Homo sapiens: one gene and its partners. The protein of the gene in region 1 interacts with the protein of each later gene in a biochemical or structural test. Each region holds a gene or a part of one and is shown on either strand. Other genes may lie near its edges.

Region 1 (7,032 bases):
TTCTCCGCCTCAGTTTCCTGATCAGCCAACTAAGGATGAAGGAACAGAGAGAATGAATTAGGAGCCCTTGACAGGGGAGGCTGGGGTGGCATCATGAGACCCCAGGTTCTGCCCTGGTCCCGTCTCTAATTCACCATTGACTGTGCTTCTTTTCTTCTCAGCCATGTTTTCTCATCAGTGGAAGGGGGGTGCTCTGTCAGACAATCTATAAGAAAGCTTTTGTCCAGATCTGACACTATGACGCAGTAACAAAGCCCCAGGCCTTTCCCGCCAGGGCAGTGCTGAGCTCCGTGACTCTAATGCCAGCTGTGCTCTGGCTGGCGAGGTCCTCGAGGGCTGCCTTTGTGTATGAAAAGGCTGTTTGTGGCTACTTTTGAAAAAAATAGTAATTCTTTAATTAACAATTTTTTAATAATTTGTTTTTTCTTAACTTGTGAGTTCAACATACTAATCATATTTTATTTTATAAGCCCTGTAATTTTGATTAATGACTTTCGATGGGCCTTTAATATTTGAGCAAATGAAGTTGAACAGACCTAGCATCCTTAAATAATAAATACCCTTACAAATGTAGCTAATCAAACTCCCTTGGTTCTGTGCTATTCCATAGGGTAGCCCCTACAATCACGCATTTAAAATGTGATGATAGTCCAAATTGAGATGTGTAAAGTGTAAAATATGCAACAGGTTTTGAAGATGAGTTTCAAGAAAGAATGTAAAATATTTCAACAAATTTTATGTGATTTATATGTCGAACTTATAATATTTTTGATATGATGGGCTAAATGAATTCTATTATCACAATTAAGTTTACATATTCCTTTTTACTTTTTAAAAATGGGGTTTCTGGTCTGGTGTGGTAGTTCACACCTGTAATCCCAGCACTTTGGGAGGCCAAGGCAGGAAGATCGCTTGAACCTAGGAGTTCAAGACCAGCTGGGGAAACATGGCAAAACCCCGTATCTCCAAAAAATACAAAATTAGCCTGAAGTGGTGGTACAAGCCTGTTGTCCCAGCTACTCGGAAGGCTGAGGTAGGAGGATGGTTTGAGCCCGGGAGTTTGAGGCTGCAATGAATGAGCCATTATTGTGCCACTTCACTCCAGTCTGGGCGATGAAGGAGACCCTGTCTCAATAAAAAAGTAGGGGGAGGGTTGTCCTGGAATATTTAAAATTACATGCGTAACTTGCATCATATTTATATTGGATAACACTGCTTTTGATATTCTAAGCACATTTATAAATATGATGAATTCCATATTTTATAGAGCATGAAACAAAATGTTCCCAAGAATTTTAGAAAATGCTTTTAGAACTAAAAAACTAGCATAAGTGAAGTGAATATTAAGTTATTTTTAAAATTTTTATAGATATGAGGGTAGAAGTGCAGTTTTGTTACACGGATATATTACGTAGTGGTGAAGTCTGGGATTATAGTGTACCCAGCACTGGAGTGTTGTACATTGTACCCAATAAGTAATTTTCATTCCTCACTCCCCTCCCATCTTCCCACCTTTTGGAATCTCTGATGTCTGTTACTCCATTCTGTATGTCCATGTGTGCACGTTGTTTGGCTCCTACTTATAAGTGAGAATGTGGTGTTTGACTTTCTGTTTCTGAGTTATTAAAGCGAATATCAAGTTCTCTTAAATATTCTAATGTTTACAGATATTGTCAAATTCTCTTAAATTTTCTACTTCAAAATTGAACCTAAGTCAATTACCTGCTCACATTCATGAGGAACTCAATGGCCAAATGTTTTTAAATATCACAAATATAGGACTTTATGCAACTCACGGAGCTTGACCCAACTTACATTTAACACCATTGGATATATACTATGAGTGTTTGTTTATTTAATCATCTCTATTTTCTAAATTCTAATCTTCCTGGGTTTAAAAGCCACTTACCAAGGAGGAAACAATGGCGCCATTGCAGGTAACTTGGGTTATGCCAAGCAGGTTGAAGTTTTTCCATCTCAGTGGACTGAGCTGAGGTCGGTGTTTTTGTTGTTTTGCCAAAACATAAGATATGGTTCCCCTGTGTTGCTGATGGATGCGCTTGTGCCCTTTTTGATAGTCCGTGCCCTCTAACTGGGCTGGCTCCTTGACCTATGAACTCTGAATCCAAGTTATACAAACCTAATCCCCTACATCTGCCGTGCATCTGGCCTTATTGTTTGATTGGACTGAATTAAACACACATGTTTACTTTTCTATTCTGACCTCTTTTCACATTCTTCCTGCCTGGCAAGACTTCATCTCATAGATACATAAATAATTTATGACAGGCTTCTGCATCTTTCTCCCGGCTTAGCTTGGCTCTCTGGCCACAGGTCAATGACTGATGACAGTTAGCGTGGCCTTCACCGTATTGGGGCCATGGAACGGGGTAGCTCCTAGGGTGCTGGAGCTCGAACTTTACAGAGGGATCTAGAATGAGTGAGAAATGCTGCCCATGGCCCTCCTCATTCAGACCACATTTATTAAGGCTTTATTTATTATATTTATAGAACACTCAAGAATTAAATTCAGTACCCAGCTGTTAGATTCTGAGTTAAGGAATCAGACTTCTCCCTGGGGCAAGGAGGAATAAACAGGTGGCCCCAACTGTCCTTTAGGACAGGAGCTTGGAGTGTAGACCTCCCAGGTGCGTGGCCATCCTCTCCCTGCCTGGACCACAGATGGGACACCATGAGCTTTAACATCCATGCCATGTGCTCAGGCCTGCCCTGAGCAGCCCCCTGGTAGGGCTGGGATCCCCAGGCTGTATCTACTTCCTCAGCTAGCAAGACCTCCAGGCCCTCCATCCTGTCCTCGGCACTGGCCCTTCTCCAGACTCAGAGCATGGTAAGTTATCCAGCATAGCTCTTCCCGGAGCACTTTATTCCAGCCCACCTTCCCAGTGTTGGCCAAGGTGTCATCCACCTGACAATTTACTTAACGTAATTTCCCTCCTTTTTCTTTCTTTCTTTTCTTTTTTTTTAGATGGAGTCTCGCTCTGTCGCCCAGGCTAGAATGCAGTGGTGCAGCTCACTGCAGCTTCAAACTCCTGGGCTCAAGGGATCCTCCCACCTCAGCCTCCCAAATAGCTGGGATTACAGGCGCCTGACACCATGCCTGGCTACTCTTTCTTAATTGATGTTTTAAAATGCAAATACATTTATTTTGAGAAGAAACTTTATATATCACTCCCTTAAATGGAAAGCCATTCATTATAAATCACCATCATGATTATAATGGTGAAAATAAACATAATGGAAATAAAACAATGTTACTAAATTCTAGCCAGATGCATTTGCTGCTTTCCCTTTCCTCAAAAGGGAGGGCTGTAGATGTCAGAGAGACTTTAAAGACTAACCCCATGGGAGATTTCCTCCTCCAAGTCTGTAATTAGAAAGGCTGAAAGGGAAATAAAGAGTATGCATAACTTCCTCATCATGTAATATAGTGGTATATAATGCCAAGTCAATGACCACCTAAATCAATTTTGCATAGTTTTGTGTATGTGCCCTAGACTTTGAAAACACTGATCCAGAGAAAGGACAAAGGGGGTGGGCATGGTGTCCCCTGACAAGACTGAGCCTGGGGACGCTGACTGCTCTGCAGCCTGGGGTTACGTCCTACACATGAGACCCCCATTTCAGGGGCTCCCCAGTACCCTGAGAAGTCCCTGGATTTTCCCAGTGAGCCCTGAGGTTGGGGGGCACCCGAGTTCACCTCCCTTGATTCCGCTCTGGGAATCTAGGCCCCTGCAGCCTGGGGAGGAGAAGGAACCTTGAGGAGGGGTGAGGTGGGTGTGGACTTTGAGAACTAGCTCTGGTCCTAACTTGCTGGGGAATCTTGGTCAAGTTCCTTCCTTTCTCTGGCCCTAGTTTCCTTTCTGGAAAACTGGGTAAATTGAACACTAAGGACCCAGCCTAAACATGCTTGTACTTTATGTATGTTCCTTGAGGCTTTACAGGTTATGGAGCAGGGCATCTGGCTGTACGCAGCAGAGACCCAGCCACTAGACACTTAGCCCTAGGAAGGGCACTGTATCAACCCCAGCCGGCATCCTGTCGTATAGAATCATGGACCCCGGAGTCAGGCAGACGCGGGTTCTGAATTGCATCTCTGCATGGCCCCAGGGTGGTTTCTTTGCCTGCATGCTAGAGATAAAAATCCCCAACTCACCAAAGTGTACAAGTTAATGTAGATGATGCATCTGAAAATAGCCGAACAAAATGCAGTGCTCAGAAATGTTAGCTTATAAATGCTCTACAGCAAGACCAAAGATAATCCCTTGCCTATGTGAATACAGGACTCGGTGGTTAACATAGTGCTGTTTGCACAATGAGCTCCATCACCCACATGGTGACCTCATTTTATAGATGAGGAAACTGAGGTTTAGCGAGGCTAAGAGACTTGTCAGGACCTGAGCTTGGGTCTCCCAGCCAGCAGGCTGGTGCTTTTTCCATTGTGTGGGAGTTGCCTGGCTTGTTTCCAGCCAGCTGTCCTGTGGGCTCTATTCTAGCATAGGGTTTCTCCCCTAAATGCAAACTCCTAGCCTTGCAGCCTCACCACTGAATCTAGGAACAGCCCTGAGGGACCTCTGAGGTCCTAGGGACCCTGGAAGTCTTCTTAGCAACAGATGGGGTCAAGTGTGGCTGCCTCCCTCATCATGGCACGCCCTCATGGGGTTTGCCTGGGGGTTGCCCTGCACCTTGGGGCCAGCAGGAAGGCAAAATTAAAGAGGCACCATGAGCCAGGGGAGAGCTTGCTGGGCAGCAGGCTCCATATTTTGTTTTGTTTTCTTTTTTTTTTTTTTCTTTTTGAGACGGAGTCTCAGTCTGTTACCCAAGCTGGAGTGCAATGCTGCGATCTCAGCTCACTGCAACCTCCGCCTCCCAGGTTCAAGCAATTCTCCTGCCTCAGCCTCCCGAGTAAGGGGACCATAGGCACCCACCACCATGCCCAGCTAATTTTTTTGTATTTTTAGTAGAGACGGGGTTTCACCATTTTGGCAAGGCTGGTCTTGAATTCCTGACCTCAGGTGATCCACCCGCCCGCCTCAGCCTCCCAAAGTGCTGGGATTACAGGTGTGAGCCACTGTGCCTGGCCTAGGCTCCATATTTTCATATTCATTCAGTACCTGCTGAGTACCAGGCCCTGTGCTGGCACTGCCATAGGACATGAAGGTTTGCCCTTGAACAGTTTATAGTGTTGTGGTAAGACACACCAGCACCACCCCGGGATAGGTGTGGCAACAGGCACAATCCAGTGACAGCTGCAACCACCACCCATTACCAGGGACTTAATATTCTCCAAGCACCAGCTATGCATATGCTGTTCCACCCTGACAACACCAGGACAATCACCCCTTTTTTATGGGTGGAGAAACTGAGGCTCAGAAAGTTATGTATTTTGTCCCAGGTTGGTGGCTAATGCTGAATTTAAATCCATGTCATGATATGTCACCACTGGGGGAAGCTGACTGATGGGTACACAGGATTTCTCTTCACTATTTTGGCAACTTCTTATGAGTCCATAGTTTGAAAATAAGAAGTTAAGGGGGAAAAAAGGATTTCAGCCCTTTCTGGTGACTCACACCTGTAATTCAGCACGTTGGGAGGCCGAAGTCCAAGAGTTCCAGAGCAGCATAGGCAACATAGTGTGACCCCCACGTTTACAAAAAATTAAAAAGTTAGCCGGATGTGAGATTCATGCCTGTAGTCCCAGCTACTCGGGAGGCTGAGGCAGAGAATGACTTGAGCCCAGGAGGTTGAGGCTGCAGTGAGCCATGATCTCACCACTGCACTCCAGCCTGGACAACGGAGCAAGACCTTGTCTCAAAAAAGAAAAAAAAAAGTATTTCAGAAAGAAGGACCCATTTGAAGGCCGGGTGCAGTGGCTCACGCCTGTAATCCCAACACTTTGGGAGGTCAAGTAGGGCGGATCACTTGAGGTCAGGAGTCCGAGACCAGCCTGGCCAATATGGCGAAACCCCGTCCCTAGTAAAGAAATACAAAAATTAGCCGGGTGTGGTTCGGGGGATGGGGGGCACCTGTAATCCCAGCTACCCGCAAGGCTGAGGGAAGAGAATCGCTTGAAACCGGGAGGCGGAAGTTACAGTGACCCAAGATCGCACCACTGCACTTCAGCCTATGCAACAGAGTGAGACTCTGTTTCAAAATAATTAATTAATTAATTAAATTGAAAGAAAGACCCATTTGAGCAGAAACCTGGAGGTGGGACAGCCTACGAGGGCCCGGCTGAGGGGAGGTGCTGACCAGCCAGTCCGGCTGGTCCTGTTGGGTCATGTTGGGTAGGCAGGACTGAAATTCCCAAAGGAGCTGAGGTCCAGGCTCTTTTCTGCCTCCTGACCCAGACTGGTGTGCCATGAGGATTCAATGAGCGCCAAGCACAGGGACTGGCCCACGGAAGGTGCGCCACAAAATGTACATTTACAAGTGTTAGGCAGGCAGTACAAGGATCACGTCCTCCAGTGCAGCACTCTGCAAATACGTAAACCTGCCTTCTCCTCGTCACAGCCCTAAGGAGGTATGCGCTACTATTTAATACTTCCATTTTACTGAGTAAGTGACAGGCTCAGAGAGATAAAGTGACTTTTCCTAGATCGCACCACTAATAGATGACAGATACTTGGTTTTACCTCATGACTCCAAATCCGTTGCTTTTTCCCAGCCCTGGAATTGGGTAGGGTTTGGGCCGGGGACCCCTCCCCACTCAAGACTCCTGCAGGAAAGGTCCGCCCTTCCCCCAGGGACTTTTCACCTCACCCACCATCAGCTGGGCCGTCATGGAACTTTATGGAGCCTGAGCTCTCCTCCTTCAGGCTGAGTGGCCATGCCCAGCCTTCGTTTCCCCGGCTGTAAAGCAGGGCCAACGGGAGCTCAGAGCTGTGTGGGGCTCCCCAGATGTTGGCGGTGACATGCTTGGAGAAATGCCAGGCTCCTTAGGGTGTTAGGAGAGACCTGTGGCCACAGCTGCTGCTCCGACTGGGACCGGGCAGGCGCTCCCAGGGACAACAG
Region 2 (7,032 bases), on another chromosome or scaffold:
TGTCTAATAACTGAATTCCAAATTGAGTAATAATTATACAAAAGCCAATTTAGTTTAGTTTGGTAATCAAAATTAAAAGTATTAGGTGGTAAACAATAAGACTATAAAAGAAAAAGTAGCTGATTGTTTAAATACATTTGCTTATAAGAAAATAGAATAATTTTGGTCCATGAGACTCACAAACATCAGTGACAATGAGGCAATATACTTTTTGTGTAAACTAATTGTTGGAGCTATTTAAAAAGCGCAAAATCCATCATTGATAGAAAATAGCAGCTAAGAATAAAATAACTTAAAATCAGTTTAAATAATAAATTGTTGCTGCAACTTTTAATCAATTGCTCCTGAAGTCTTTATTAAAATTTATGTTTCTTAGAACTACCTATATTTAAAATGTTTTTGTCCATCATCTCAGGTTCCACATTTGAAAGATTTTCTCACATTTACACTTTCATATTGTGACTTGGCTTAAGAGGTAAAGTTAGAGATATTTCAGAAATTTGGGTTTATAAATTCCTTAACTTGCTTTCTATTTCCCATGATTTTAGAACAGTGTTTCTCAAACTTTATGGTGACTGAGAATCCCCTAGAAACTTGTTTAAAATGTAGAGTTATGGGATTTTTTTTTTTCAGGAATTCTGATTCAGTAGGCCAAATAGGGCTCAGAAATCTGAATTTTAAACAAGTATCTTTGTGATTCTGGTTCATGTAAATTAATGTCTTCAGTTAATGAGCTGGAAGTTACTGATAAGTAAGAAGTGCTCATGGTAATCAATTAGAGACAATATATCCTATATAGGACATTAGCCCCTGTTTCACTATCAAATCCATATTCACTATTTATAAAGCATTCAGAAAGCATTATTTATATTTTATTCAAAGGAATTACAAGCACTGAAAATAATATTTAAGATAATAAATATTTGAAGGGGTAGACCTATAGATTCCCCAAATCCAGATTGTATAACGAAATCTATTTTTATTCTGTTGCTTATTCTTCTGTATTGAGTAAATGAATTGTTTTTGCTGTGAATCAAATCACAGAAGTCCCGTTTTTCTTACATATGTACTTAAAATCTTTCTCTGCTTAACTTTAGAGCAACCATCTAAACCTGAAATTGTAAGCAAAGCACTGTTTCTCGAAACAGAGCAGCTAAAAAAGGTAAGAATTGTTTTTGATTAATACCTTTATTTAGCCAGTGTTGTAAGTGCCTTCTTCTGACCTTACATTCCAAGACAAGTAAGAAAGGCTTTGCTCTTGTGGAGATGACAGTGTTGCAGCTACCAATCAGAAATTATCTACAAGGCACAGAGGGTACAACATGCTCACAGTCTCAGGTAACCATGAGGACATCAAGGAAGGTGGGGTCATTTCTGAAAAGAGGAGTCTTTCTCATTTGAATTAATGGATTGTTTAATAGAAGGATGAAGCCAGTTAGCATGATTCATGCCTGTAAGCCCAACAGTTTGGGAGGTTAAGGTGGGAGGATCACTTGAGCCCAGGAATGTACAGCATGGCAAGACCTTGTTTATAAAAAATATTTAAAAGTTAGCTGGGCATAGCGGTACATGCCTGTGGTCCCAGCTGCTTGGTAGGCTGATGCTTGGTAAGGAGGACTGCTTGAGCCTAGGAGGTCAAAGCTGCAGTGAGCCATGTTTGCACCATTGCATTCCATTGTGGACGACAGAGCCAGACCCTGTGTAGAAAAAATATATAGAGAGAATGATGAAAGATGAATAGATTTTCACCAAGCCAAAGGTAGAAATGGCTTTCCAACAATATGAAATAATAGGATGTGAAAGAGAACGGTGTGTTTGGGAAACAGCAAATTTTGGCATTGATGAAACTGGGTGCCAAGACAGAAAACAAGAAAGGATAGAAAGAGATGAATCTGGAGAGGCAAAGAAAAGTTGGATCATGACAAATCTTACATACTAAATAGGGAGTTTGGACTTTATTCTGTTGGCAAATTATGCTACTGAAAGATTGAAGTAAAGAGGTGAGATCAGATTCGAACAACACATTAGCAGATATGTGAAGGGAAGCTGTATTAAAGTGGGGGACAAAGTTGGAGTTCCATATTGAATAATAATGTAACTAAAATACCAAAGTTTTCCTTTGTTGGGAGATGGAAACCCAAGTCCTACATTCTTTGTGTCATATTAAATTTTACTGCATAAAATTATTTGATGAATACCAAATATTAAAGTTAAAATACATTTAAAGAAAGTGAGGGGAATTATAGAGCATGATAATGTATATCCTCTTGAAATATATGTAGTATGAAACTGGAGACACAGCCCCATTTTAACACCAAATTATTCTTCCGTATGAAGATCTATGATTCATGGTAATAGTCAGTGTTAATAGAGTAATGTTATTTGGTTAATGTTAAAAATGAATAGTGTCAAAATGAATTTGGCAATGCTTTCAAATGAATGTGATTTTATAATAGTGACACCATCTATTGCACATTTAAAAATCGTCAAAAGTATATTTTCAAATAAATTGTTAAAAAGGTCTTAAAAAGACATTGTTTTTATACCAGAGAGCATGTATTCAGTCTTTGGTCAGTGTTGGAAAATAAACGGGTCAAGAAACCCTTGGAATAACTCTGCATTGCCTGAGTTTCTGGAGTTTCCAAATTGACAGCCCCTGATTGAACCAAGGTAATAACATTGCCTTTTTATTTTGCAGTTGGGTGACTGCATTTCAGAAGACAGTTATCCAGATGGCAATATCACATGGTACAGGAATGGAAAAGTGCTACATCCCCTTGAAGGAGGTGGGTGTGAGGGCAGGAGGACAGGGAGTACATTCAGAGGACCTGTTCTGACTTTCTTTGTTCTAGGTATTCTTTAAACCAGTGGTCTCCAACCTTTTTGGCACCAGGAACTGGTTTCATGGAAGACAATTTTTCTTTGGATCAGGGTGGGGGGATGGTTTCAGGGTGATTCACAGGCATTAGGTTTATTGTGTACTTTATTTCTATTATTATTACATAGTGATATATAACAAAATAATTATGCAACTCACCATAATGTAGAATCAGTGAGAGCCCAGAGCTTGTTTTTCTGGAACTAGACAGTCCCATCTAGGGGTGATGGGACACAGTGACAGATCATCAGGCATCAGATTCTCATAACAAGTATGCAACCTAGATCCCTCATATGTGCAGTTCACAGCAGGATTTGCATTCCTGTAAGAACGTAATTCCACAACTGATCTGACAGGAGAAGGAGCTCAGTCAGTAATGTGAGCCATGGGGAGTGGCTGTAAATACAAAAGAAGCTTCTTGTGGTTGCCCACCGCTCACCTCCTGCTGTTTGCACCCATACCAGTCCTGGAGGTTGGAGACCCCCGCTTTAAACTATTCAGGATCTAAATATGTTGCCCTCTTTTGAGCTATGACTCTTATGCTCTGTTACTTTAAGTATGTACTAAATTAATACATGATTTTTTAAACATCATTTTCAGCCCTTGTACAGAAGAATCAAGAGCAGAGGAAATAATTTCTGTATATGGCATGATCTAGAAGTTAATTAAGTGAGTGGGAAAAGGGATTCCAGGATTCTATTTCTGTGTCTCTGATTCACGGTTTTGAAACGACATCTAACCTCACTACATGTCAATTTTCTCTCCTGCTGAATACAGTTAGAAGGAAAAAAAACACTTCTCAAAGGTGTGGTGCTGTTTCGTTAAGGATTGTGATTGTCAGATGAAAGACCCTATCATCAGTGTTCTTTATTTTCTTCAGCGGTGGTCATAATTTTTAAAAAGGAAATGGACCCAGTGACTCAGCTCTATACCATGACTTCCACCCTGGAGTACAAGACAACCAAGGCTGACATACAAATGCCATTCACCTGCTCGGTGACATATTATGGACCATCTGGCCAGAAAACAATTCATTCTGAACAGGCAGTATTTGATATTTACTGTAAGTAATTCAATATATAATTATGCTATTTAATGTATTAGAAATAATATTCAAATGCTATTAATCTTTGAGGTCCCAATCCAATTACTCTTTGAATTCTGCTTCCAGTCTGCACCCCAAATTGATGGCACCCAAATAATCTCTTCCTCTTTAGGAGACCATAGCATGAATAAACATTTATCCATCCTATAATATCTTTCACTCTCTACATTTTATCTATGAGTGTCTCTTCTGAATTCCACTACACACTAAGTTCTTTAAAGATAAGATCTATAACTTATTTTCTGGATGAATGACAGACAAATATAGACTTTAACTGGCTTTCTAAATAAGAGATTACCATTTTAATGAAGAAATTTATTTTAATAATAAGATCAATTGCATAAGTTTGATAGGATGTTGTATTACAAGACATTTTACTTAACTAAATTGTGTATTTGAAACAGAGTATTTGTCTACAAAGGAATCTTCATGGTCATCTGTTCTAACTTCATTATTTTAGTTAGTAAAGTGAGGCACAGAGTCTTGCCCTAAATTAGCTGTAGATATTAGAATAGAATCTTTTTCTCCATTGCTGTGCTTTCCTTGTAAGACAGGTGCCAAGATAATCTAATGATTAGAAGCAAAAATTCTGGAATTCTAGTCCCAGCATTATCAATTACCATTTCTTGAAAAGTAGCTTAATTACTCTACATCTCAGTTTTCTTACTTTAAAATGGGAAAAATATAATACCTAACTGATAGTGTTGTTATAGAGAGTAAGTGAAATCACAAATCAAAAATAGCATGCTACATCACACATTAAATTGTCATTATTAAGTACTTTATTATTATTATTATATGGTCATTATCACAATATAAACATAGAGCTGAAGATATTTGGGGGGAAAATGCAATAAAGGATTTTCTTCTTATTATTAATTTATCTAAAATTTTTGTGATACTGGCATGTGTTCTACAGTAACCTAGCACTTCTACATCTATTTTAGAGAAAAGCCAGGAATGCCTGCTGAGCCTTTCGAAAGAATCACCTCACCTACATTTCTTTTTTTGGTTCCCTAGGGCACAATATCTTATATGAGAACAAAAGTGAAATTCTTCCAAAGTTGCCCTAATATTAAAAGGTAGTTTTGCCTTAAACTTGGGAAATAAGTTTCAACTTGATTTAAACCCAAGAAATTAATATTTCATTATGTATAGCTTATCTAAAATCAAACTTTTTTAGGTGAAGGCAGAATTCTTTCTTTCTTTTTTTTTTTTTTGTGTGAGACATAGTCTCACTCTGTTGCCCAGGCCAGAGTGCAGTGGCGTAATCTCAGCTTACTGCAACCTCCACCTCTTGAATTCAAGTGCTTCTCCTGCCTCAGCCTCCCAAGTAGCTGGGATTAGAAGCGCATGCCACCACACCCTGCTGATTTTTGTATTTTTAGTAGAGGTGGGGTTCCACCATGTTGGTCAGGTTGGTCTCGAACTCCTGACCTCAGGTGATCTGCCCACCTCAGCCTCCCAAAGTACTGGGATTACAGGTGTGAGCCACCAAGCCCGGCCCAGAATTCTTTCTGTTAGAAATATTCAATTGGAAATAAACCATATTAGTGTAAGTGTAGGTGTACAACACAGGAGAGAACATCAAGATAAGTAATAAGAATTGGGAAATTGGCTTCAGAAAGAATAGAAATATCTGTGAGTATGAGGCATGCAGAGTTGGGTAGACGGAGAAGTTCTTGAATGGATACGAAGAAAATGATTTTATCATGCTGGCTGTGTAAGGTGCACTTGTCATGGCTTTTAAGAAGCCACAGTGGGCTTCATGGTGAAAACACGAAGCACAAAGAAGCAGTTTAAGACAGTCCTCACATTCAAGGAGTGTACTACTCCAGTAGAGAAACAAGACACCTACATCAGAAGGAAATTGCCAATGCAAGGTTGTAAGGGTAAAAGTCTTAGGAACTCAGTATTAAGAGTCTTGAGGGCTCAGGTGCCCAAGGACAGTGGTTCTCAAACTGTAGTGTAAATCAGAAGAACATGAAGGACTTGTTAGAGCACAGATTACTGCACCCTGGCCTTGAGTTTCTGATTTAGTGGGTATAGGACGGTGATTGACACTCTGCATTTGTAACAAATTCCCTGATGGTGCTAATGCTGCTGATCTGAGGACTACGAGTGGAGAACCACTGCTCTAGGAAGACTTCAGAGAACAGAAGAAGAGTGCTAAATGGAAAGGAGAGACGAGTCCATTTCAAGAAAAAAAAATTGGCCAATTCATCTTGAGAAAGCTTGAGAAAAATGCACCAGTCCACTCCTTTCTTACCCTATTCAATCAGTAACGAGGTTTTAGAGAATCTAGCTCTTTAATCTTTGTTTTGATCTGATTTCTGCCTTCTGACACTGCCTACGTTTATGCCACCATTCCTCATTGCCTCTATTCCTGCGATGGATTTCAAAGTAGTATTTTTCCAATGAATTGCAAAATAGTATTTCTCTTGTCTGCCCACCATTCTCTGTTCACCCCCAAATAAACTGCCCTCCAAACTGCTGCCAGAAATATTTTTCTAAAACACAAATGTGACAAAAACTTCTCAGTGACTCCCCAGAGCTCTCAGATTAATATCCTTCCCCCTCCCCCAATTGCAGTATGCCTTGAGTTCGTTTTAGCCATGGTCCTACAGTATGTCTCAACCCTCATCACTGCCTGTATCCACTGTGGTCTGTTCTACTTTCCAGATTCCTTCTGTAGAGTAATACTTACATGCCTATGCATATGCTGTCATTTTCCCACCTTTATCATTTAGCAAATACCCATTTATGTGTCAAAACCCAGCTCCAGGGTCAGTTCCTCCAGGAAGCTTCCTAGTCTCATGTAATGATGGCTACCAGGATCCCTATGCTTGTGTCATATGCAGGTTTTATGTGGTCATACTCTTAATTATTAAGTTTGGTGTCTTTACAAATAGAGGAAAAGTTCATTGAGGCAGGGTTTTCAACTTCCTAATTCCAGCACTTAAGGCTTGCACAATATAGATGCCAAACAAATGAATAAATGAAGAAGGACTGTAGGATAAATAAATACATGAAAAGAAAATTTCAGCAG
Region 3 (7,849 bases), on another chromosome or scaffold:
AGAAATACTAGCTGGGTCTCCACATTTGTAAACACCTACAGTAAGCAGTTCAGTGTAGCTTCAGAATAAGGAATTTAAACATGAGTTAGAATACAGACCATTTTAATCGGCTGTTAATTGGTAGCTTTTCCCTTTAACAAAGAGTAGCTATCCGCTGCACTATGCTATTCTAGGCCCACCCAGCAATCAGTCCAGTTGTCTGGGTTCCCAGGAACACTTCTGAAATGTCTGCTCATAAAGGTCCCTGACCTGTGCGCAACCGTCACAGAAGAAGACTACTTCCTGAGCCCCTAGGCACTGCCCTACACTGCTCCTCAAGTAACACAAGAGGCAGTCTACTTCCTGTCCTTGCTGAAACACAGAGCAGGACTTGAGGAAAGCCCATTTGCCAAAGACAAATTCAGTGATGCTAAGTTGGAATAAGGGGAACTGGTCCTTTCCTAGGATTTCTTTCTCATCATAGCTCCCTGGCATCAAGGAAGGTAGAGTTACTTTCTGCTTCTCATGACTGATCTTCCCCCCTACGGAAAAGCTGAACAGTTCAAAAGAGAACACATGACACTTGGTCAATAGCGAACTGGAAGTATACAGCAAGCACAGCCTAGACTGGTTCTTAAGTTACCCACTCAGAATTTAATGAGAAGATCCAGTTCAGGCACCAGACACAAGGAGCTACCCTTGAGTGGGAGCCTGTGTCCCAAACGATCACAGGAAAGAAGAGCTATGTTTGAGATCAGTTACCACAAGTATCAAGTACATAAGTTTACAAGCCACTTGGCATTTAAGGTCAACACGAGATTCTGAAGGCATACTACATGAACAAAGGTCTTGGCTGCAGTTAAGGTTTAGAGTCTGGCTAATGAGGGTTCTATGTAAAAAGGTACCTAAATTATACATGAGACCAGCATTAGCCTCTTGACCTCACTAAGTGAAAAGTCTTTGTAAAGCACCTATGCATATTTGTAGTACAGCGAACTATCATAGTTTAAAGACCGCTTAACAGAGCGAGACACCTATTCTACTTGGACACAGCTAGTTTTCGGGGTCAATCCATCAGGCGGTACTCGTCCTCTTCTGCTTCTTACGTAACTTAGTGAGGCATCCTCCTAGCACTTCTAAGTGCTAAATATTCAAGGACCATCATCAAACTTCTCCCCAGAATCTGGACTAAGTGCTGATTTTAAACATCACCTCTAAATATTATGAATTTAGGAAGTTGCTTAAGTCCCCCAAAGATCAAGGATGGGGTATGATCATCTTTAGAATGAGAGACCCTACCCTAAGGATTGAGAGTCAATGTCTAAAAGGGAGACTATTGTTGTAGAAAAGTAAATGATCATTATTCAACTTTACCTTTTATGGAAACACACAATTTCCTAGTATGAAATGTTTATAAACTTGAGGTAGGCCAGGCGCAGTGGCCCACGCCTATAATCCCAGCACTTTAGGAGGCCGAGGCAGGCGGGTCACCTGAGGTCGGGGGTTCGAGACCAGCCTGACCAACATGGAGGGACCCCCCCCCCCCCACCACCACCACCACGAAAAATACAAAATTAGCCGGGCATGGTGGCGCATGCCTGTAATCCCAGCTACTCGGGAGGCTGAGGCAGGAGAATCGCTTGAACCCGGTAGGCAGAGGTTGCGGTGAGCCGAGATAGTGCCGTTGCACTCCAGCCTGGGCAACAAGAGCGAAACTGCGTCTCAAAAAAAAAAAAAACCTTAGGTAAACAAATCAGAACTTTGGAAGCTGACGAAAGCTTTTTCTTCTCAGGCCCTGTGCCCAAGTAGTTAATTGTATCAGTCTCATTTTCTTCAGAATTAACTGAGCCTTCTCCCATTTCTTCCCCAGAATCCTAGAGACAGCCTGAGTCACTGAGGTCCAGGTGTCCTCATTGCGCAGCAACCCAATTCCCAGAGTCACTTTACAAACATTCCGCAGTCTCTGGAACCCGCATGGCGAACTTGAAGGGTAAGGCTGAAACCTAAGTCCCAGCCTCCACCATGCGTCCCCGACTCCCTGGACCTGAACGCCTACTGCTCAGAGGGCAATCGTTTTAGTGTTTCTATTTGAGCACCCGATAATTCAGAATAAACTCTCAAACATGTTGTGAAAGCCCCCCGGTAGGGCTCTGCACGCTAGGACCAACATTTTGCCACACCCACCATTTCCTGGGCACAGACAGTCTGGGCAGGGAGGGGCATTTGATTCGGAAAAGCTTAGAGTTTGCAGTCTTTGCAAAGCCGGGTCATGCCCACTCAGGCCATGGGGCAAGCACCATTTTCTGTGGGATCAGCAACCAGACAGCGGCTGCAGCCCGGCCGCAGCTGGTCCCGGTGGAAGAACTCATTCGCGCTCCACAGCGAGATCTCCTCCAAGTCCAGCCTCAGCTGATGCTCAAAAGGGGCCGGGCCAGCCAAGCTGTGGGTCCCGGGAGGCGCCCTATGCAGTCCTGGGAAGTCCCTTCGCTCCCCCGCGGCCGTGATCTGGGGAAGGGTGACGGGGCTCCAACCCCAATTAGAGAAACTGGAGCGGCCGTCTGGTTTGCTGAGCGAGCCCCTCCGCCTCCCCTCGCAGCGGGACCTGGTGGGACTGGGGTGACCAGACTGCGGCTCGTCACCGGATGGGGCTTACTCTGGGGCCGCAGAGCGCAGGCGGCGGAGGTGCGACGGCGGCGAAGCCCACGAGGCTCCGCAGAAGGTGGCCCGTGCCGCCCCGGGGACGTGTGTGGGTCTCGTAAGGTGCTGCCAACCTTCCCCGAACGCCAGCGCCCTCGATAATCAAAGGCGACTGCCCCGGGCCCAGATCGCTGCCCGCCGCCCCGCTCCTGGAGGGCAGAGCACAGGCTGTGGGGCTCTCCGCGCGCGCCCCGGCCCGGTCCCGGGGAGCCGAACCCTCTCCGGACCGCGCCCCAAGCAGCGCCCGGGCGCCCTCTCCCCTGCCCGGCCGGAGCCGCGTCCCCCGCGCCCCGCGCAGCTCACCGCTCGTTGGCTGGCTCCGGACGGCTGCTGGCGAGGAGGTGCTGCGGGCGCCGGCGGGGCGGTGGCTCCGAGCCTCAAATACTCCCAGCCCCGCCCGGCCCGCCTCTCCCGAGGCGGGGCGGCGCCCCTGCCCAGCCAGTCCTCTCCCCGGACCAGGCTGGGCGAGCCCCGCGCCGGCCAGACACCCCGAGCCGCCGCCGCAGGGGCGACCAGGAAGCTCCCGACGGGGAGAGCGCGGGCACTGAGGGGCGCGACCTCCGCTGCCACCGTTAGGTTCCGTGGCGCTCCCGGGACCTGGGCTGCGGCCGCGTCTGTCCCCCGCCCTCTCCAGAATCACCTGAGTGAAGAATTCGCTGAGAGGAATTCAATTAATAGGTTGCTTTATTTGTAGAATACAAAACCAAAAATCTTTTCAATGTCTATTCCCTAGGGAACTGACTACAAATTGACTACTTATTCTAGATCAATAGGCCTAGTCTCAAAGCAATTCCCTTATAAAGCAATTAATCAGACAACTCTTTAACACATTTTACACAGGAAATTCACATTATATATATATATACCCTCCTTTTAACTTCACCTTATCTTTTTGTTGGAAGAAAGAGATAAGTATTATTATCTCATTTTTACTGTCAGGGTGCTATAGTCTGAATGTTTATATCCCGCCAAAGTTCATATGTTGAAATCCTAACCCTCACGGTGATGTATTAGGAAGTGGAGGCCTTGGGAAGTGATTAGGTCATAGGGGCAGGGTCCTTATGAATGAGATTGGTGCCCTAATAAAAGAGGCCGGAGAGAGACCCCTTGCCACTTCCACCTTGTGAAGACACAGCCAGAAGGCTCCCTCTGTGAACCAGAAAGCAGGCCCTCACCAGACATCAAATCTGCTGGCCTGGATCTTGGATTTCCCGACCTTCAGAACTGTGGGAAATAAATGTATATTGCCTATAAGCTACCCAGTTTATGATATTTTGTTACAGAAGCCCAAACAGACTAAAAGAGAAAATGATTTACTTATCCAAGCTCACTCATGTCTAGGAACAAAATCCAGAAATCCTGGCTCTTACACTTTACCTGGAAAAGCACCAGGCCAAAGAATCCTTGCAGGTTGGAACAAGGATCTCTGAGGAAAAAAAAAAAAATTAAGGGGGGTAGGGGAAGAATCTTTGCAGGGACTGGCTTATGTAAACTATGGAGAAAACCAGGTATCATCTGGTTCCTAAATAATTCCTGTAGCCCTTATAGTAACCAATTAATAACATAAAGATAAATTATTTCCTGCAGTTTTTCAACTTAGGGAAATGTTCCTGTGAAGGACTCACTTGATGGAATTGAGAAGCTGTCTTGGCATTCTCTAGGATAAACTTGAAAGTGTCTTAGTGGTTGGCACGGTTCCTGCAACATCGTCCCCTCTAGGCTTGCACATAGAAGTCACAGTGTGGCTGGGGATTATTTATGCAAGTTTGAACTCTTATCTGAAGAGGTAGCCTGGCAACCAATTTATTTGAATGGATCACCCATAGTAAATGACTAACCTCTGGGTAGTAAAAAGGTATCACCCAAAGGAATGCCCTTGGTCTCCAGGGAAAATGCTATAAATCTTAAGACTTTGAGTCATGAGGCCTCATGGCCAGGAGTGGTACCCTTAGAGGGTTAGCCATTGGTAATAAGAAAAGTAGATAGCCAAATGAATTGCTGTGGAGGCAAGGGATGAATCACACTCTTGCCTTTTCTTCTGGTCATTTCAGAGATAGACAAAGTTCATGCCCTGGCTACTTAGGGGGCTTGCTTACACCTGATTGTATGATCAGACATGCTTTTGGCTTCCCTTCCTTACTTGTACATCCCCATGAATACTTTGGTGCCAACTTCATGCCCCATAAAGCTAACAAAAGGATCCTGCTATGATCAGGGTGTGCCTGGGAATTTATAATTTGTACACATGCAATAAACGGCTCTTTATTACCCAATCCAAAGTCACATCCCTTTTCTAAGATAAGCGTAAAAAGGAACCCAATAAAATCAATTAAGATATCATTGAGTAACTTCTATGTACAGCTCACTGTGTTATTTGAAATAGGGACAAGGCAAGTGTTAGCCCTCAAACAAAAAGGCTGTCTGGTTTCTACGGATGCAGAGATTGTAAGCCGCTGATAAAAGCAAGGATTCTAAGAGAGGCATCTCCACAGGAGGGAAAGGAGGAAACTTGGGAAAGCAGGTGGCTGTCCAGAAGGTCAGGAGGGAAGCTGCGTGAGAACTTCAGTTAGAGCCAGAAGAGAGTAGGAGATGAAGATGAGAACAAAAAGGGAAAGTCTTTAAGGATAAGCAGAAAAGAGAAAGAAAGACAGTAATTGGAGAAGAAAGCAGAGCCGATTATTTATTTATTTATTTTATTTTTTTGAGACGGAGTTTTGCTCGGCTCACCGCAACCTCCACTCCCAGGTTCAAGTGATTCTCCTCCTGCCTCAGCCTCCCCAGTAGCTGGGATTACAGGCATGCACCACCACCCTGGCCAATTTTTAGTAGAGATGGGGTTTCTCCACGTTGGTCAGGCTAGTCTCAAACTCCCTACCTCAGGTGATCTGCCCACCTCAGCCTCCCAAAGTGCTGGGATTACAGGCGTGAGCCACTGCGCCCGGCAGCAAAGCCAGTTTTTTAAAGTCACCTTTTAAATAGGAAAATAGAACCAGAGAGAAAGGAAAAAGAGAGGAGAATAGAAGAATTATGAAAATATAAAAAGTGAGTGAACCTGGAACAAGCCAGAAAAGAGGAGAGAAATTTCCCAGAAATTAGCACTACAGTGGGCCAGATAGGGAAAGAATGTCTCACAAAAGCTGAAGTTCCTATGAAATATAAACAAAAATCTTGGTATTAAGTCGTGTAGACAGCAGAATACAGGAACAGCCAGAAAAGAGCAAAGCGGCTGCTTTCCAGTTTTCACATTTGGACCCTGGGCAGCCCAGGCAAGTTTGGCAATTCTGTGTCTACATGGTGTTAACACATCTGGGTGACAAGTGAAGAGTTGAGTCAGGCCTCAGGGCACTTGGTCTTTCTGGTGCCAACAACTGGAATCTGGGTGGCTGGCAGACTTAGGGACTGAAAGAGAGGCTGAGTGTTCTGGGGAACCATTTATGCCTTGAAGACAAAGTAATTTCCAGTTTCAGAACGAAATGACTGTGGCTGTCTGCTGTTTCTAGTCCCAGTTATCTATATGTACTTACTCATATCCAAGGCCTTTAGTGGGGGCCTAATATATGCCTCAACTATTTTGCAAAATCCACCCCTTCTAGCTTGCTGAATGAACAGGCTCACCAAAACCTGGTCAACAAATGAAATAGGGTTGGTGGCAGTAATGTGCCCAATGATGGTTTACAAGGTCTTACCACCTGGGTTGCAACTAGAGCCCCCTGGGACAGAGTGAGAGCCAGAACCTGCTTAGAAGGGAGCTAGCCCCTCCTGCCTTGGATGGGCAGGCCAACAGCATCAGGGAGAAGAGGTGTCCCAGGTGCCACCGCAGGTGCAAAACCCCTTCTCCAGCCCAACCTCAGCCCTGGCCACCTCAGCCTAACCTTCCTTGTTTGTCCTTCAAGCCTAACCCAGGCCTGTCTTCAGCACTAGCCATCACCAAACCCACATTCCCACCAGTCACTTCTGTCTATAGACAGGAAGTGGCTGCTGCCACTACTACTGCCCTTATTGCAGCCACACCCAGGGCTACGCTCTTAACCACGCTACAGCATTAACCTGCCTCTTGAGGAAGTATAAAACCAGGGAAAGGGATAGAGAGTGTGCCAGCTTGCTAAGGCTGCCATAACAAAGCACCAGGAACTGAGTAACTTAAATAACAGAAATTTATTTTCTCCCAATTCTGGAGGCCAGAAGTCCAAGATCAGATGTTGGAAGGGTGGGTTTCTTCTGAGGCCTCTCTCCTTGGCTTTTACGTCTCTCTATATCTTCACATGGTCTTTCTTATATGCCTGTCTGTGTCCTAATCTCCTCTTGTTAGAAGGACACATTCGTATTAGATTAAGACCTCATTTTAACTTAATTGCCCCCTTAAAGGCCCTATCTCCAAAAACAGTCACATTCTGACGTATCCGGGGCTCGGATGGTACTGACATAAATGTTTTTGCAAAGAGAGAGGGACACAATTCATCCCATATCAGAGAAGGGCAGGGGAGGAGCTGGCTGTCAGTTCAGCAAGTGTGGTCAGCAGAGATTTCTCCAAGGAGGTGGTATTTGAGCTGAGACCTAAATAAGGAGTAGGGGCAGGCTTGTAAAGATCCGAGAAAGTGGGAATGGCAAGAATAACACTGTGAGTTGCAACAGGGACCTGTGCCAGCATAGACACCCATGGGGCACCTCCTGTCCACTCCTCTCAGAATCCCCTCCCTGCCATCCTCATAAAGTGGCCCGGCAACCGAGCTAGCACTTCATGACCTCTCACCTTAAGTGGAGTTGGGAGAATTGTGGAGTCCTAATTGGGGGCTGGGGGAAGTGGAGAATTGGGCTGGTGGGATCAAGGGAAAGCAAAAAGAGACAGCAGGCTGGGCGCGGTGGCTCACGCCTGTAATCCCAGCACTTTGGGAGGCAGAGATGGGTGGATCGCTTGAGGTCAGGAGTTCGAGAACAGCCTGGCCAACATGGTGAAACCCCATCTCTACTAAAAATACAAAAATTAGCCAGGCATGGTGGCAGGTGCCTGTAGTCCAGCCTGGGCAACAGAGTGAGATTCTGTCTAAAAAAAAAAAAAAAAAAAAAAAGGCAGATAAGCTATAAGTCTGCCTTTCTTCATGGTCCAGGACACATAGCCCTCTTGCGCAAATAACTCACAATCTGCCTGCTCCCAGCTCTCTCTAGACCCTTGGCT

The links. The genes of interacting proteins can lie anywhere in the genome.
Region 2: the proteins of CD6 (region 1) and ALCAM form a complex in vitro, tested with the Homo sapiens proteins (4 studies listed by BioGRID and IntAct).
Region 3: the proteins of CD6 (region 1) and LGALS3 form a complex in vitro, tested with the Homo sapiens proteins (one study listed by IntAct).

Annotation. Positions count from the first base shown.
Region 1 is NC_000011.10:60,974,671-60,981,702, forward strand, and holds part of CD6 (T-cell differentiation antigen CD6 isoform 1 precursor), read left to right. Parts: intron 1-7,032.
Region 2 is NC_000003.12:105,530,905-105,537,936, forward strand, and holds part of ALCAM (CD166 antigen isoform 1 precursor), read left to right. Parts: intron 1-1,097; coding exon 1,098-1,162; intron 1,163-2,698; coding exon 2,699-2,786; intron 2,787-3,758; coding exon 3,759-3,941; intron 3,942-7,032. UniProt on the Homo sapiens protein: Cell adhesion molecule that mediates both heterotypic cell-cell contacts via its interaction with CD6, as well as homotypic cell-cell contacts. Promotes T-cell activation and proliferation via its interactions with CD6.
Region 3 is NC_000014.9:55,124,431-55,132,279, reverse strand, and holds the start of LGALS3 (galectin-3), read right to left. Parts: upstream 3,029-7,849; 5' UTR 2,980-3,028; intron 1-2,979. Other genes in the region: uncharacterized protein LOC124903319, read right to left, coding at 7,176-7,230. UniProt on the Homo sapiens protein: Galactose-specific lectin which binds IgE. May mediate with the alpha-3, beta-1 integrin the stimulation by CSPG4 of endothelial cells migration.